4 linked regions of the Homo sapiens genome follow. The protein of the gene in region 1 interacts with the protein of each later gene in a biochemical or structural test. Each region holds a gene or a part of one and is shown on either strand. Other genes may lie near its edges.

The links. Proteins that work in one complex are often made in the same cells at the same time.
Region 2: the proteins of PRKAA1 (region 1) and USP10 form a complex in vitro, tested with the Homo sapiens proteins (one study listed by BioGRID).
Region 3: of the proteins of PRKAA1 (region 1) and SLC31A1, one has a biochemical effect on the other in vitro, tested with the Homo sapiens proteins (one study listed by BioGRID).
Region 4: of the proteins of PRKAA1 (region 1) and PPP2CA, one has a biochemical effect on the other in vitro, tested with the Homo sapiens proteins (one study listed by BioGRID).

Annotation. Positions count from the first base shown.
Region 1 is NC_000005.10:40,791,627-40,795,772, reverse strand, and holds part of PRKAA1 (5'-AMP-activated protein kinase catalytic subunit alpha-1), read left to right. Parts: intron 1-4,146. UniProt on the Homo sapiens protein: Catalytic subunit of AMP-activated protein kinase (AMPK), an energy sensor protein kinase that plays a key role in regulating cellular energy metabolism.
Region 2 is NC_000016.10:84,706,500-84,709,999, reverse strand, and holds part of USP10 (ubiquitin carboxyl-terminal hydrolase 10), read right to left. Parts: intron 1-3,500. UniProt on the Homo sapiens protein: Hydrolase that can remove conjugated ubiquitin from target proteins such as p53/TP53, RPS2/us5, RPS3/us3, RPS10/eS10, BECN1, SNX3 and CFTR.
Region 3 is NC_000009.12:113,256,044-113,259,543, forward strand, and holds part of SLC31A1 (high affinity copper uptake protein 1), read left to right. Parts: intron 1-70; 5' UTR 71-105; coding exon 106-234; intron 235-411; exon of another isoform or gene 412-560; intron 561-1,069; coding exon 1,070-1,142; intron 1,143-2,650; coding exon 2,651-2,819; intron 2,820-3,500.
Region 4 is NC_000005.10:134,195,074-134,198,573, forward strand, and holds part of PPP2CA (serine/threonine-protein phosphatase 2A catalytic subunit alpha isoform), read right to left. Parts: intron 2,772-3,500; coding exon 2,699-2,771; 3' UTR 1-2,698. UniProt on the Homo sapiens protein: Catalytic subunit of protein phosphatase 2A (PP2A), a serine/threonine phosphatase involved in the regulation of a wide variety of enzymes, signal transduction pathways, and cellular events.

The sequences.
Region 1 (4,146 bases):
GTTCATGATCACATTTGTTGATGTTGATCAGAATCTTTAACCTGTTCATTTTTTAAGTTAACAGTTGGGATGCTTTTTGCCACAAGTAATAGAAAATCTAGCTTTGCCTAGTAAAGAACTTATCTGTGGTTCTCTTTCCACAGATAAGTCCTTCCAGCAGGGAAGGCCAGCATATCTCTTATGAGTCTCATTGGCTCATCCAGTCCCTCTGGCTAGGAATGCCATGTGCCAGTTGGCTTATGCTTGTATTCCTAAGCAGGCATTAGCAAGGGGGATGGCATTGCCCTTGGAGGAGTATGACCCACCCTTTGATGTGTGTGTGCAACAGAGGTGGGTGGGTGGGAGACATCTTTTTTTTAAAATTTGTTTTATTTTTTAAATTTTTCTTTAAGTTATTGGGGTACAGATGGTATTTGGTTGCATGAGTAAATTCTTTAGTGGTGATTTGTGAGATTTTGGTGCACCCATCACCTGAGCAGTATACATTGCATCATATTTGTAGTCTTTTATCCCTCACCCCTCTCCCACTCTTCCCCCTCAAGTCCCCATAGTCCACTGTATCATTCTTATGCCTTTGCGTCCTCATAGCTTAGCTCCCACATATCAGTGATTAGAACATACTGTGTTGGTTTTCCATTCCTGAGTTACTTCACTTAGAATAATAGTCTCCACTCTTATCCAAGTCACTGCAAATGCTGTTAATTCATTCCTTTTTATGGCTGTGTAGTATTCCATTTTGTGTGTGTGTGTGTGTGTGTGTGTGTATATATATGTATACACCACAGTTTCTTTATCCATACATTGAGTGATGGGCATTTGGATTGGTTCCACGATTTTGCAATTGTGAATTGTGCTGCTATAAACATGCATGTGCAAGTATCTTTTTCGAATAATGACTTCTTTTCAGAAGAGATTGCTGGATCAAATGGTAGTTCTACTTTTAGTTCTTTAAGGAATATCTACACTGTTTTCCATAGCAGCTGTGCTAGTTTACATTCCCACCAGCAGTGTAGAAGTGTTCCCTGTTCACCCTTTTCAACAAATTGTGCTGGGATAATTGGCCAGCCACATGTAGGAGAATGAAACTGGATTCTCATCTCTCAACCTTATATAAAAATCAACTCAAGATGGATTAAGGACTTAAACCTAAGACCTGAAACTATAAAAATTCTAGAAGATAACATTGGAAAAACCCTTCTAGACATTGGCTTAGGCAAGGATTTAATGACTAAGAACCCAAAAGCAAATGCAATAAAAACAAAGATAAATAGATGGGACCTAATTAAATTGAAGAGCTTTTGCACAGGAAAAGGAACAGCAGAGTAAACAGACAACCCACACAGTGGGAGAAAATCTTCCTAATCAATACATCTGAAAAAGTACTAATATCCAGAATCCACAATGAACTCAAACAAATAAGTAAGAAAAAACAAATAGTCCCATCAAAAAGTGGGCTAAGGATATGAATAGACAGTTCTCAAAAGAAGATATACAAATGGCCAGCAAACATGAAAAAATGCTCAGCATCCCTAATGATCAGGGAAATGCAAATCAGAACCACAATGTGATACCACCTCACTCCTGCAAGAATGGCCATCATCAAAAAATCAAAAAGCAGTAGATAGATTTTAGTGTGCATGTGGTGAACAGGGAACACTTTTTTTTTTTTTTGGAGACAGTTTTGCTCTTGTCACCCAGGCTGGAGTGCATTGGCGCAATCTCAGCTCATTGCAACCTCTGCCTCCCAGGTTCAAGTGATTCTTCTGCCTCAACTTCCCTAGTAGCTGGGATTACAGACGTGTGCCACCACGTCCTGCTAATTTTTGTATTTTTAGTAGAGATGGGGTTTCATCATGTTGGCCAGGCTGGTCTTGAACTCCTGACCTCAGGTGATCCCACCCGCCTCGGCCTCCCAAAGTGCTGGGATTACAGGCCTGAACCACCGTGCTGGGCTGGGAGACATCTTCTAAGTACTTGGATAGTGTGGGGGGACAGGGTAGACACCTACACATAAATGGATGTTGTTAGGAGAGAGAAAGGGGGACATGGATACTCAGTGAACACACAGAAATGGCCACTATTGTGGTGATGTTGGTAATTAAACACCAACAGCCTTAATTATGCAAGAATTCTTGCAAATAATAGGGTTAACCATATGTTTAGACAATTTGGAGTAAAGAAAGCTTTAAAAATTACTTATACATATTGGTAAATTTAACATGAAGAGGGATCTAATAAAATATATGATATTGATATGCAGAAAAAGTCTAAGTATGATATTCCATGCTTATAGGAAATTTAATTTTGCGGGGAGAGTAGGCTGGAAGTTCGGAGTGATTGTTTCCTGTTACAGGCCAAAAAATTTGTTTGGTTACTTAGTGGTAGCATTTTGAGAGGAAAGTTTACAGAAAACTAGGGTTATTTTGTGATTATGCTTGAATTGTCTTTATTGTTTCCAAGGCATCTTTTTTTTTTCCTTCTAGTTATCAAGATGTTAGGTTCTGTGCCCTTGTGGGCCTTCCCTCTGCCCAAAAAAAGCATGGATGAGCAGAGTAATATCATTAAAATGGCAGTCTTTGTTAGTTTTTCTAGAGAAGATGGTCTCTTTGGTAGGCTGGGTGTATCTTCGGCAAATGAGTTATTTATACATATAAACTATTAAGTTGGCAAGTATTTCTTTTTTTTCTTTTTCTTTTTTTTTTTTTGAGATGGAGTTCCACTCTTGTCGCCCAGGCTGGAGTGCAATGGTGCGATCTCAGCTCACTGCAACTTCCACCTCCCGGGTTCAAGCGATTCTCCAGCCTCAGCCTCCCAAGTGGCTGGGATTATAGGCGCCCACCACTACGCCCAGCTATTTTTTTTTTGTATTTTTAGTAGAGATGGGGTTTCACCACGTCGGCCAGGTTAGTCTCGAACTCCTGACCTCAGGTGATCCACCCACCTCAGCCTCCCACAGTGCTGGGATTACAGGCATGAGCCACCATGCTTGGCCTAAGTTCGTAAGTATTTCTGTGTAAAACTGCAATTTCAGCTACATAGGTACTTTGTGAATGAATCATAGTAGAAGTTATTTAAAAATTCCTTTAAGTAAAAATTATAAACATGAACTAGAGCTATATATATCAGTGTGAATGAATCTTAAAAATATAAGGTTAGACCTCGAAAGCAAGTTGTATAAGAATATGTATAGTTTGCTGTTATTTATATAAATTTTAGAAACCTACAGAACCACTCATACAATGCTGGTAGAGTATAAATTGGTATCCTACCTCTACATGAGAGAGTGACAGCATTTATTAAAATTAACCTAACAATTCAACTTCTAGGAATTATTTTATAGATGTACTCGTGTATGAAATAATGGGTTATTCGCTGCCATATTGTTGTAAATATTAATACAAAACTTTCGAAGTAACCTTTCTAATAGTAATAGTTATGGTTTATCCATATAGTGAAATACCTTGCAAACATTAAGGAAGAAAAAGGGAGGAACTTTGTATATTTTAGAGAACAATTTCCAAGGTGTATTTTTAAGAGGAAAAAGTAGAACAGTGTGTTCAATATGCCTACCACTTATGTATAAAAGGCAGGGGCAAATCTGTATCTTAAATGTGACTGCTTTTATATATAGAGTATGTCTCTTTAAAGATACACACAAGACTGGTTACGTTAGTTGCTCAGTATAGGGGACTAGGTAAAGGAGGACATTGTGTTGCACCATAGATGCTTTTGTACTTTTGAACTGTGTGTATAGTGCAGGTATTGTGTTATCAAAATATATGCAATGACATTTGTAAAAATAAATATGAAAAATAATGTTACTATATTTTTTATGGATTCCTACCCATGTAAAAATATTTAAACGTGGGAAACACAAACACCAAATTCAGGATAGTGGTTACTTCTGAGGACAGATGAAGGATAAGGGAATCTGGGAGGAGTCATGCAGGGCTTGAGTTGTATTTGTAATGTTTTATTGCTTAAGCTGATGGTGGCTCATGGGTATTTGGAATGCCCTTGGTGTGCTTGAAATGTTTGTTTGCTTTCTTAAATTACGATCTATAGCTTTTAAAGCCCACCCTTCCCCAGGATTAAGCTATTTCCTTAACACGTTTTTATTCTTTCAATTTTAAAGTGGGAATGAAA
Region 2 (3,500 bases), on another chromosome or scaffold:
CGCACCCGGCCTCAACCAGCTATCTTAACACAGAGTTGCTACCAACTTCACTCAGTCCTGAGCTTGGATTACCAAATTCTTTCTCTCTCCTCTCCAGACTCCCGGCTAACCACTTCACCCTACACACCATTTCAGCCACAAATTTATCTGTTTCCCAAACAGGCTGCAGGCTTTGAGACAGTTCCTCTGCACAGTCTCCTCCACATGCCCTTGTCCGTGTGCTTCTCTGCCTGAAAAACTCCAGCTCAAATGTCACCGTTCTACAAGAGACGTCTTCCCAGCTTTGCCCAACATTCAGTCCCACTCTCCTCCTTTTTTGAAACACCTTATACCTAACTCCTGAGTCACGCAACTTCTCTCCACCTCCACGGCACCCTCCGAGTCAAAAGTCCAAGGACCCTGCCCTAAATGATCTCCTTATGGCCACTGCGACCCCGTGAGTCTATTCTTCACTGGGCAGAGTATGATCCCAAAAGGCAATGTGATTATGAGGTTCCATGGTCAAATGTTGTACCACCCCCTCTTCCACACTTTTCTCAGAATAAAGACAGTAACATCTAACAAAGGCTGCAAGGTTGGATGGTGCGTCTGTCCCTCCCCTCCAGCTCTGTGCCCAAGACACACAACTCCTTGCTGAGTTCTCCAAAGTGCTCCAAATTCCCTCCAGCCAAAGGTCCACCACACATGCTGTCCCCACTGTCTCATGCTGTAAACACGTCACTTCCACGGGAACGGTTCTCTGACTTCAGATTGTGTTCCCTTCCTTTGGGAAACATCTCTCAGTTTGGAGTGACGTGTACGTAACTGTGATTATCTGATTAGCAAGCTGTCTTCCTCAATGGACCCATAAACTCCTCCGCGAGAGAAACAATGCCTGTTTTCGCTCATCACTCCCTCCTCAGTGCCTGGTACACAGCAGCCACTCGGTAACTATTTGCTGAATGAATGAACAAACGAATGAATGAATGTTCTTGACTATGTTGTTCACACTTGTGTTACAGGAATTACCACCCTAAAACTGGATGCACCCAGCCATTAGCCTGCTTCTCTCCCTCACTACCCAGCGAACCTCTAAAGCACAGGAATTCTCTCTTCAGCTCTATACTCCTAACGTCCGGCCACCAAAATCTGTGAACAATCACAAAAGATATAAAGTCCTTCATATGTGGTTCTGAAAAAAGTGTCTAGTATTCTACAAATTAATTCTAAACAAAATAGTAAACCACACTTGGAAGCCCCGATTTTGCATTCTATTACAAGTCAGAAGTACTTAAATGTGGTTATCTCTCAGGAGTGGGACCTGAGTTGGGAAGTGTTTTGTTTTTTGCCATTGCAGTACTCTGATGAAACAAAGTGACAGAAGACAAAAACATGATTTTGAAGAAGATGGAGAAAAATTCAGGTGAATTACCCAGTTTCTCATTATTCCCTAGGGCAGGTGACTTACCAATCTCCAACTAATAAAAAGTTTGTCCTCTCATAAATCTAGTGCAAAGGCAATGGATGGACAAGAATCTGAATGTGAATCAGACCTCCTTTTTTGTTTTTTGAGATGGAGTTTCACTCTTTCGTCCAGGCTGGAGTGAAGTGGCGTGATCTTGTCTCACAGCAACCTCTGCCCCCACGGGTTCAAGCTATTCTCCTGCCTCAGCCTTCGGAGCAGCTGGGATTAAAGGTGCCCGCCACCACACTCGGCTAATTTTTGTATTTTTAGCAGAGATGAGGTTTTACCATGTTGGCCAGGATGGTCTCAAACTCCTGACCTCAGGTGATCCACCCACCTCGACCTCCCAAAGTGCTGGGATTACACGCGTGAGCCACCACGCCCAGCCAGACCTCTTTTTACACTATGAACACCGGACAGCATGACTACTACTAAGGGGGTGGAAGTCTTCAAAATATTTCTTATCTTTTCTTTTTTGACGTAAGAGTCTCGCTCTGTCACCCAAGCTGAAGTGCAGTGGCACAATCTCGACTCACTACAATGTCCACCTCCCAGGTTCAAGCGATCCTCCCACCTCAACCTCCCAAGTAGGTGGGACTACAGGAGAGCACCACCATGCCCAGTGAATTTTTGTATTTTTGTAGAGAAAGAGTTTTGCTACGTTGCCCAGGCTGGTCCCAAACTCCTGAGCTTGAGTGATTCGCCTGCCTCAGCCTCCCAAAGTGCTGGGATTACAGGCGTGAGTCACTCACTGCACCTGGCCCAAAATATTTCTTAAGAAAAAAAAAAATTGTTTGGACAACATGTTATAAGTTGTGGCAGCACTTCCACAATCCCCTGCACACTGGATCCTGATAAGTCACTTCAATCTCCAGAATATCTGCTTCATTCCCTGGCAAAATTAGGTAAACCTAAGAAAACTGACTTCAGTGGATGTTTTCAATAATTTTGAAAACAAGGTTTGCTCAATAAAGTTCAGTGACTAGATACAACAGACCATATTATGAAACAACGGAACAACAACAACAAAATACTCCAGTGGAAAAAAGCATAGAAGACACACACCAAACTGACGATTAAGGATCAGAGAGGAAGGGAATGACTTCTACTTTTCACTTTAAATACGTCTGTGCTGTTTTCGTGTCTTAAAAATAGCATGTCTTTATACTAGAAAATAAAATAAACGACTTTATTAAAATGTACCCCACACAAACTTTAGTGAATAGTAACATATTATAGTAACAAATTTTGTAATTAGTAACATTAAAGTTTCTAAATGCACATTTCATTCATTCATTCTGTAAATGTTTATGGAGGAACTACTAAGGGGAAGTCACAGTGTGAAAGATTATGCCTTCATCAGTCTCTTCCAGAAAACCAGTCTGGCAAAGTAGAAAAAGCAAAGGATTTAGAAGTCAAAACACCTGCTTTTAAAAGGTCCTGATGGCCAGCAGCCATTTGACCTCAAGCCACAACCTCTCTGGGTCTTATCTTACTCATCTGTAAAATGGTTATAATAATACAGGACAGAGTTGCTGTAAAGGCTCAAACAAGCTAAGGCACTTTCTAAACTATGCAGTTTATAGAGTTTATAGGCTTCAAATGATGACTACTACAATGCTTAGTATCTCGTAATAAATATGTTTCTCCTTCTCCAATGATCAGATCTACCCAGAAAGCCTACTTCAGGTCTTGAATAAATATATATATAGTCTTGGCCCGGCGCGGTGGCTCACGCCTGTAATCCCAGCACTCTGGGAGGCCGAGGTGGGCAGATCCCGAGGTCAGGAGATGGAGACCATCCTGGCTAACACCGTGAAACCCCGTCTCTACTAAAAATACAAAAAATTAGCTGGGCGTGGTGGCGCACACCTGTATTCCCAGCTACTCCGGAGGCTGAGGCAGGAGAATGGCGTGAACCCGGGAGGCGGAGCTTGCAGTGAGCCGAGATTGCGCCACTGCACTCCAGCCTGGGTGACAGAGGAAGACTTCGTCTCAAAAAATATATATATATAAAAATATATATAAATATAAAAATATAAATAAATATAAATAC
Region 3 (3,500 bases), on another chromosome or scaffold:
CTAAAAATAAAAAAAAGAGATAAGATTTTTATATCCTTAAATTATTATATATAATTCTTTCTCTTAAAAGAATCTTCTGCTGACTCTCAACTTTTCCTGGAAAAAATGGATCATTCCCACCATATGGGGATGAGCTATATGGACTCCAACAGTACCATGCAACCTTCTCACCATCACCCAACCACTTCAGCCTCACACTCCCATGGTGGAGGAGACAGCAGCATGATGATGATGGTGAGTGCCATAGGAGGGGCAATGCAGGCCCTTTCCCACCCACTTGGGTAATAGAAATAATGGAATTTTAGTACTGGAAGCTTATTATCTTTAAAGGTCAGTTTACCAGTGAGGATAACTAAAGCAGACCCAAGCAAGTCAAGTCATTTGCTCCAGATTATGTGGCAAGCTACTTACAGAGTCACACCAGAACCAAGATTTTAGGCTTCTTTCTTTGGTGGTCCCTTCTGAAATCGACTCTTTTCTGAATTAGGGGTTCTGGTCTTTATGCCTTGGGTGGAAAAGAGAAAAAGACAAAAGTTGGCCAGGCACAGTGGCTCATGCCTGTAATCCCAACACTTTGGGAGGCCAAGGCAGGTGGATCACAAGGTCAGGAGATCGAGACCATCCTAGCTAACACGGTGAAACCCCATCTCTACTAAAAATACAAAAAATTAGCTGGGCATGATGGCATTCGCCTGTAGTCCCAGCTACTTGGGAGGCTGAGGCAGGAGAATCGCTTGAACCCAGGAGGTGGAGGTTGTAGTGAGCCGAGATCTCGCCACTGCATTCCAGCCTGGGCTACAGAGCGAGAATCCGTATCAAAAAAAAAAAAAAAAAAGATAAAAGTTGATGGTGGGGGCCCAGGAGAAAAGTTGATGGTGGGGGCCTAGTAGAATACTCATGCTCGGTGCCTGTGGTGGTAACGCTAACATGAGGGCAAAAGCCTCCCACTCACGTGAATGTCTCTTATTATCCAGATCTTCTACTTTTAAATGTTCTAAGCTTCTTTGCCCCAAATTCTCATTTAGAATTTTCATTCATCTCTAACTGACTTGTTTTGGTTTTCTGGCAGCCTATGACCTTCTACTTTGGCTTTAAGAATGTGGAACTACTGTTTTCCGGTTTGGTGATCAATACAGCTGGAGGTGAGTAAGCCATTAGGTAGTGTTGGAAGGTGATAGTCACATGAGAGACAGTGACAAATAATTTGGAAGTCCAGCACCTCTTTCTGTCCTAATTACTAAGTCAACATGGTAATGATGCATAACCATCTTGGTTCCTATTTCCTACCTAGAAGGTAGGAAACACAGTACTTTTTTGGTCCTCTGGTAAACCTCTGTTAACTAACATGTATGTTTTGGAGCTCTAAAAAATAATTTAGATACCAGATAGAATCTTTTGCAATCCATTTTCTTTCATTCTTTTCCAGAGTGTTTAATTTTTTTTTTTTTTTTTTTTTTTGAGACGGAGTTTCACTCTTGTCACCCAGGCTGGAGTGCAATGGCAGCTATCTTGGCTCACTGCAATCTCTGCCTCCCAGGTTCAAGCGATTCTCCTGCCTCAGCCTCCTGAGTAGCTGGAGTTAAACAGGCACCTACCGCCATGCCTGGCTAATTTTTGTATTTTTAATAGAGACGGGGTTTTGCCATGTTTGCCAGGCTGGTCTCGAACTCCTCACCTCAAGTGATCCACCCACCTCAGCCTCCCAAAGTGCTGGGATTACAGGCATGAGCCACCATGCCCGGCCTCAGAGTGTTTACTTATTTGATAAGTTATTAGTCCTGGACATAAGACTAACTCAAATTAAGTACCACAAAATAAGTTTAAAACTATTGTTCTAATACTTCAATTTTACAATAAATTAAGTGCCACAAATTGTGAAATGACTCGCCATCAATCATAGAGTTAATATGTCAGAGCTAGGACAAGGACCCAGACCTTCTAGAGCTACCTAGACCAGTGTTCTTTTAGTCTACCAAACTATGGCCCACATCCTTCCTGATTCTTGGCACGGCCCATCTTAGACACTCCTAGTTTTGAGGTAGATGATTACCCATCTGTTTGTGTCTATTATGTTGTATGGTATACTTTAAATTTAACTTGCGCAAACTCAATAGTCAGTTGGACTGCCTTAGGTACCAGATGTCTGTTTGGAGCCATAAAATCAATTTGTTTTGGGAAGAAGGAGAGCATTTAGTTCAGGTAATGTGTTAAATTAGCAGTTTGAATACATTTATATCATTACCAACACTTCACAGTGTGAAAGACTTAGAATTGAAATGCCTATTCAGGAAATGTAGTCAGCCACTGATGAAACTAAATTGTTTTATTCCCTGTTCCATATTCTACATTGTGTGTTTCAGTGTAACAAACCTAATTTAATGATATCAAGCAGTCTGACCAAAAGGTTATTGTTGTTCTGATTATTTTTCTTATCTTAATCAGAAAGTAAATATGTTCTTGGCAGAGGCAATAGTTTTCAGTTACACCATCTTAGCCGTTCTCCTATCTGAGCAAGAGAAGAGGTAAAAATATAATGTCTTCAAAAGCTGAGAGTAGCATTTTTTCTATGTGTCTTTCTAGCTGGACAGCACATTGGCTAATGATTTTGCACATGTTTGACAGTACCTCCATATTTTCCTTCCATACTTAGAAATGGCTGGAGCTTTTGTGGCAGTGTTTTTACTAGCAATGTTCTATGAAGGACTCAAGATAGCCCGAGAGAGCCTGCTGCGTAAGTCACAAGTCAGCATTCGCTACAATTCCATGCCTGTCCCAGGACCAAATGGAACCATCCTTATGGAGACACACAAAACTGTTGGGTAAGAACTGAACAGATCCAGATGAAGTCCTAAAGAACTCGATCAGTTAAGCAGCAAAGCGCAGCTGTGTGATCAGCAGCAGCCCTCTTCTTGAGTTAGGAGTTCTGTATGACCTTGATCAAAACTGTCCTTGGAGGTTTGGGTTTGTAGGTCATGAGCAGGCCAAAGGAGGAATGAGAGGGAGTCTTCTGCAAATATGAATGTTTGTTCTGAGTTGTACGGATTGGCCACTTTGGAAGAAGGGAAGTGAGGAATCCATATTTTAAAATATTTACCAAAATAATAATGAACAAGTTAAGAAATTCAGATCAAGATATAAAAGAATGGCAGATTGCAGTTGATTCTATAAAGTTACACCTAGTCAGCCCTGTCCTCTTTTTCTTTACAATGTAAGACTGTATTGATTTCTGTGTTCTGTCTAAGAAAGTATTTGGATGATTATTGGTTTTTCCCATAGATTGGCAAATGTTTTTTGAGATTGTTTTAATAAAAATGTAAGTCTTAAAACCAAATTGGACCTTAAGAAATCCTATAGACTGATATCCTGCTTTCAAACAAGCAGTGTTATTTATTGTACTGATGAGCTTACTGGGGCCCAGAAGGATTGTGACCTACCTAAGGTGGCACAGGGGATGAGTAGCCAGGTCTCCTTATCCCTAATTAAGTAATTTCTTCTATACT
Region 4 (3,500 bases), about 93 Mb from region 1:
ATTGACAAACTTCTATTTAAGAAATACCGACTACAACCAACAAATGTTTAATATGCAGCAAATGAAAAAATCATGTCTAGGATACTCAACCCAAGACATGAGCACATCATGTACAAATTCATTGTAAACTTACAAAATAAGTTTCAAAATTTCTGCAAGCCCTCACTATACAAACTCAGAATCCTCTTTATTTTTGAGACAGGGTCTGGCTCTGTCACCCAGACTGGAGTACAGTGGCACAATCTCAGCCCACTGCAACCTCCATCTCCTGGGCTCAGGCGATCCTCTCACCTCAGCCTCCCAAGTAGCTGGGACTATGGTATGCCACCAAGCCCGGCTGATTTTCATATTTTTTGTAGAGATGGGGTTTTGCCATGTTGGCCAGGCTGCTCTTCAACTCCTGACCTCAAGGGATCCACCCACCCTGGTCTCCCAAAGTGCTGGGATTACAGGCATGAGCCACTGTGCCAGGCCTGTTCTTAGGGAAAGCTTTTTAGGTTTATTAATGAAAATCCTAATGTTACTAATTGAGACATCAGTTAACACCCAACTTAGTGATTCCCATCCAACCATAATTATGTATTTTTCAAGAAAATACATAATTTACTAACACATTTTCCTTACCATAGCCATTTTCAAAAGAAGGTAGGGTACTAACACTTTCCAGTTTAGATGGCCAAAGCCCGGTCAGTCTCTATAATTAAACAATTATTTTAAACCCTAGTTATGCTAAAACCAAGCTATTCTTATCACAAGTCCCATTCTGCTAACCACAAAATTTAGAGAATTTGTACCTGGAAGATACCACCACGTGTCAATTACAATATACGTATTCCTTGGTCAATTCTGATATCACAGGACCGGAAAAAATAGCTGCTTGGTGTCTAGATTGTTTGGGTATTAAAACCACTGCACATGGATAAGCTATTTGTTCAGTCGGAGAGAAAGGGCATAGAGTGACAGAGCAACAAAAAGACACACAGAGAATGTATTTCTTGTGAAAGAAAAGAATGAAATGAAATGAAATGTAGAAACCCTAATGGCCTTTTGCTTTGGAAAATTAACTCCACAAGCCACTAAAAATACTATCAATTAGATCAGAAAAGACATTCGGTATGTATGTGTTCCTCAAGCATTTTAGAAAGGGGATATGCTATAACTTCCCTGTTGGTTCCAGATTCAACACAGCACAAAGCAAGAAAACTTTTATTTACTACACTCACAAGTATGATTAAGTGTTCCTGTTTACTCTGGTAGGTTAAAATATCAAATATTAGTTCCCACAGAAGAACTTTTTTTTAAACATCTAATCCTATTCGAAGGATAAAAGGGGAAAAACTCATTAAATGTTGAACACTGCCACTTTAAGTACCATTTTTGTCTTCGGGTGAATGTACATAAGACTAAATCATGATCCAACAATAGTTTTCTATTTGGTTTCACTAGTATCACTCAAAGAACTTGACACAGGCTAATGCTTTAACACTTTCTTATCTGAGACAAATTTAACTCTAAGAACATATGACTCAACAATGTACAAAGATTTAAGAATTTGCCAATCTGTCAATCATTTTAAAGAGTCCATATAATATACACATAGCAATATAATATTCATAACCAGAAACTGCACTAAGTAAACACATCATTTAGTTTAAGCTCTACCTGAAAACATGCTGTTTTATTAAAACAAAACCCAAAGACTTAAATCTCAAGTTATATGGTTTTACAATTAAGTCTTACTGAAGCAGCACAGATTTCCTTTCTTACAAACAAGTTAATATGCAGGAAGAACCCACAAAGTGCACACCAACAATGTGACAAATTGTAATATGTGAAATACAAATAAATCCTGAAGTTAATCTGAAGAATGTCAAGGAGTTACCAGAGAGGTTATGTAGTGCCCTTGATTTTTATTTTACCTACAAGTCTACAAATTCTAAAATTTACTCAATTGATTTAACTTTTTTAATAAACAGCACCAGTCTTGCCCATTGATACAATTAAAATTTGACCTTCTCAGTTCTTAGTTCACAAGTTTATTATGAAAAACACTGCAGTGCTCTTGTGCAGTCACATCGTCTTACAGGAAGGGGAAAAAACAGTTCTGTTCAAAACAACTCACCAGGTTCTGACAATAACAAAGAACAACATGGGGCTGAGATTTGAGTAGGGAATAAACTGAGTGCAGACAAATCATATAATTAAATTAAACGGTATCCCTGAAAATAAAAAGAACAATTTCAAAACTCACAAGTAGAAGGGAGGCCTTGGTAATTATTTTTAAAAATGTTCATTAAGCTCCAATGATTGTTTGCTGCTATCCTTATCTACAGTCATGCTGAGTAAAGCTATAGCTAAATGGAAGTTAAATTGTATTCACGAGGTGTTAATGTTTACATCTTATTATCTGCAGTCTCTCAGAGAAAGCAAAAGTAACTACAAATAGCGCTATGCCAGAAACTGGTTTCTTGACCAACAATGTCGCTTCAGCATGCAATGAACTGGTTCATTCTAAAGTGGTCACGGCTGTTGATGACAAGAGGCTTTGTATTTTTATATGGCACATCTTTTGGTCCATGTGAAAACAAGTTTTTTGAATGTTAACTATTTTCTGACACTTTGGAGTTACTGTTGCTCTTCCCATTTCCATTAGGTCGATATATGGTTCATGGCAATACTGTACAAGTTTAAAATTTCATTACAGGAAGTAGTCTGGGGTACGACGAGTAACATGTGGCTCGCCTCTACGAGGTGCTGGGTCAAACTGCAAGCTGAAAAACAAGACCGATTCATGGTTTATGTTCCACGACCTCCATGTAGTGACAATCAAGATCAAGAACATGAGTCTTCCAAACTTTACACTTCCTATTCAATTTTGGCTTGTCTTAATGTAACAGAACCTTAATGATAATGGTCTGTTAACTGTACTCCCCTTGAAAGAGTCAAGGCAACTTCAGCCACAGAGACTATGCTTTTATAAAAACATGGTTTTTACCTTGACTGAAATTTCAAACAAAACAAAACAAAACATGGTTGGCCGGGCGCAGTGGCTCACGCCTGTAATCCCAGCACTTTGGGAGGCTGAGGCGGGCGGATCACGAGGTCAGGAGATCAAGACCATCCTGGCTACCACGGTGAAACCCCATATCTACTAAAAAAATACAAAAAAATTAGCCGGGCGTGGTGGCAGACGCCTGTAATCCCAGCTACTCGGGAGGCTGAGGCAGGAGAATGGTGTGAACCCGGGAGGCAGAGCTTGCAGTCAGCCAAGATCGCACCACTGCACTCCAGCCTGGGTGACAGAGTGAGACTCCGTCTCAAAAAACAAACAAACAACAAAAAAACACAAAACATGGTTTTAAAAGTGAAAAACCTAGTAATTCATACGAAGATCTATATATAATAAGTTCCTGTTGGTGTGTTTCAATGTAGATCCATTAAAAAAAAAACAAAACTTAAAAATAAAAGTTGGAATCTGACATAGCATAATCCCTTAATAA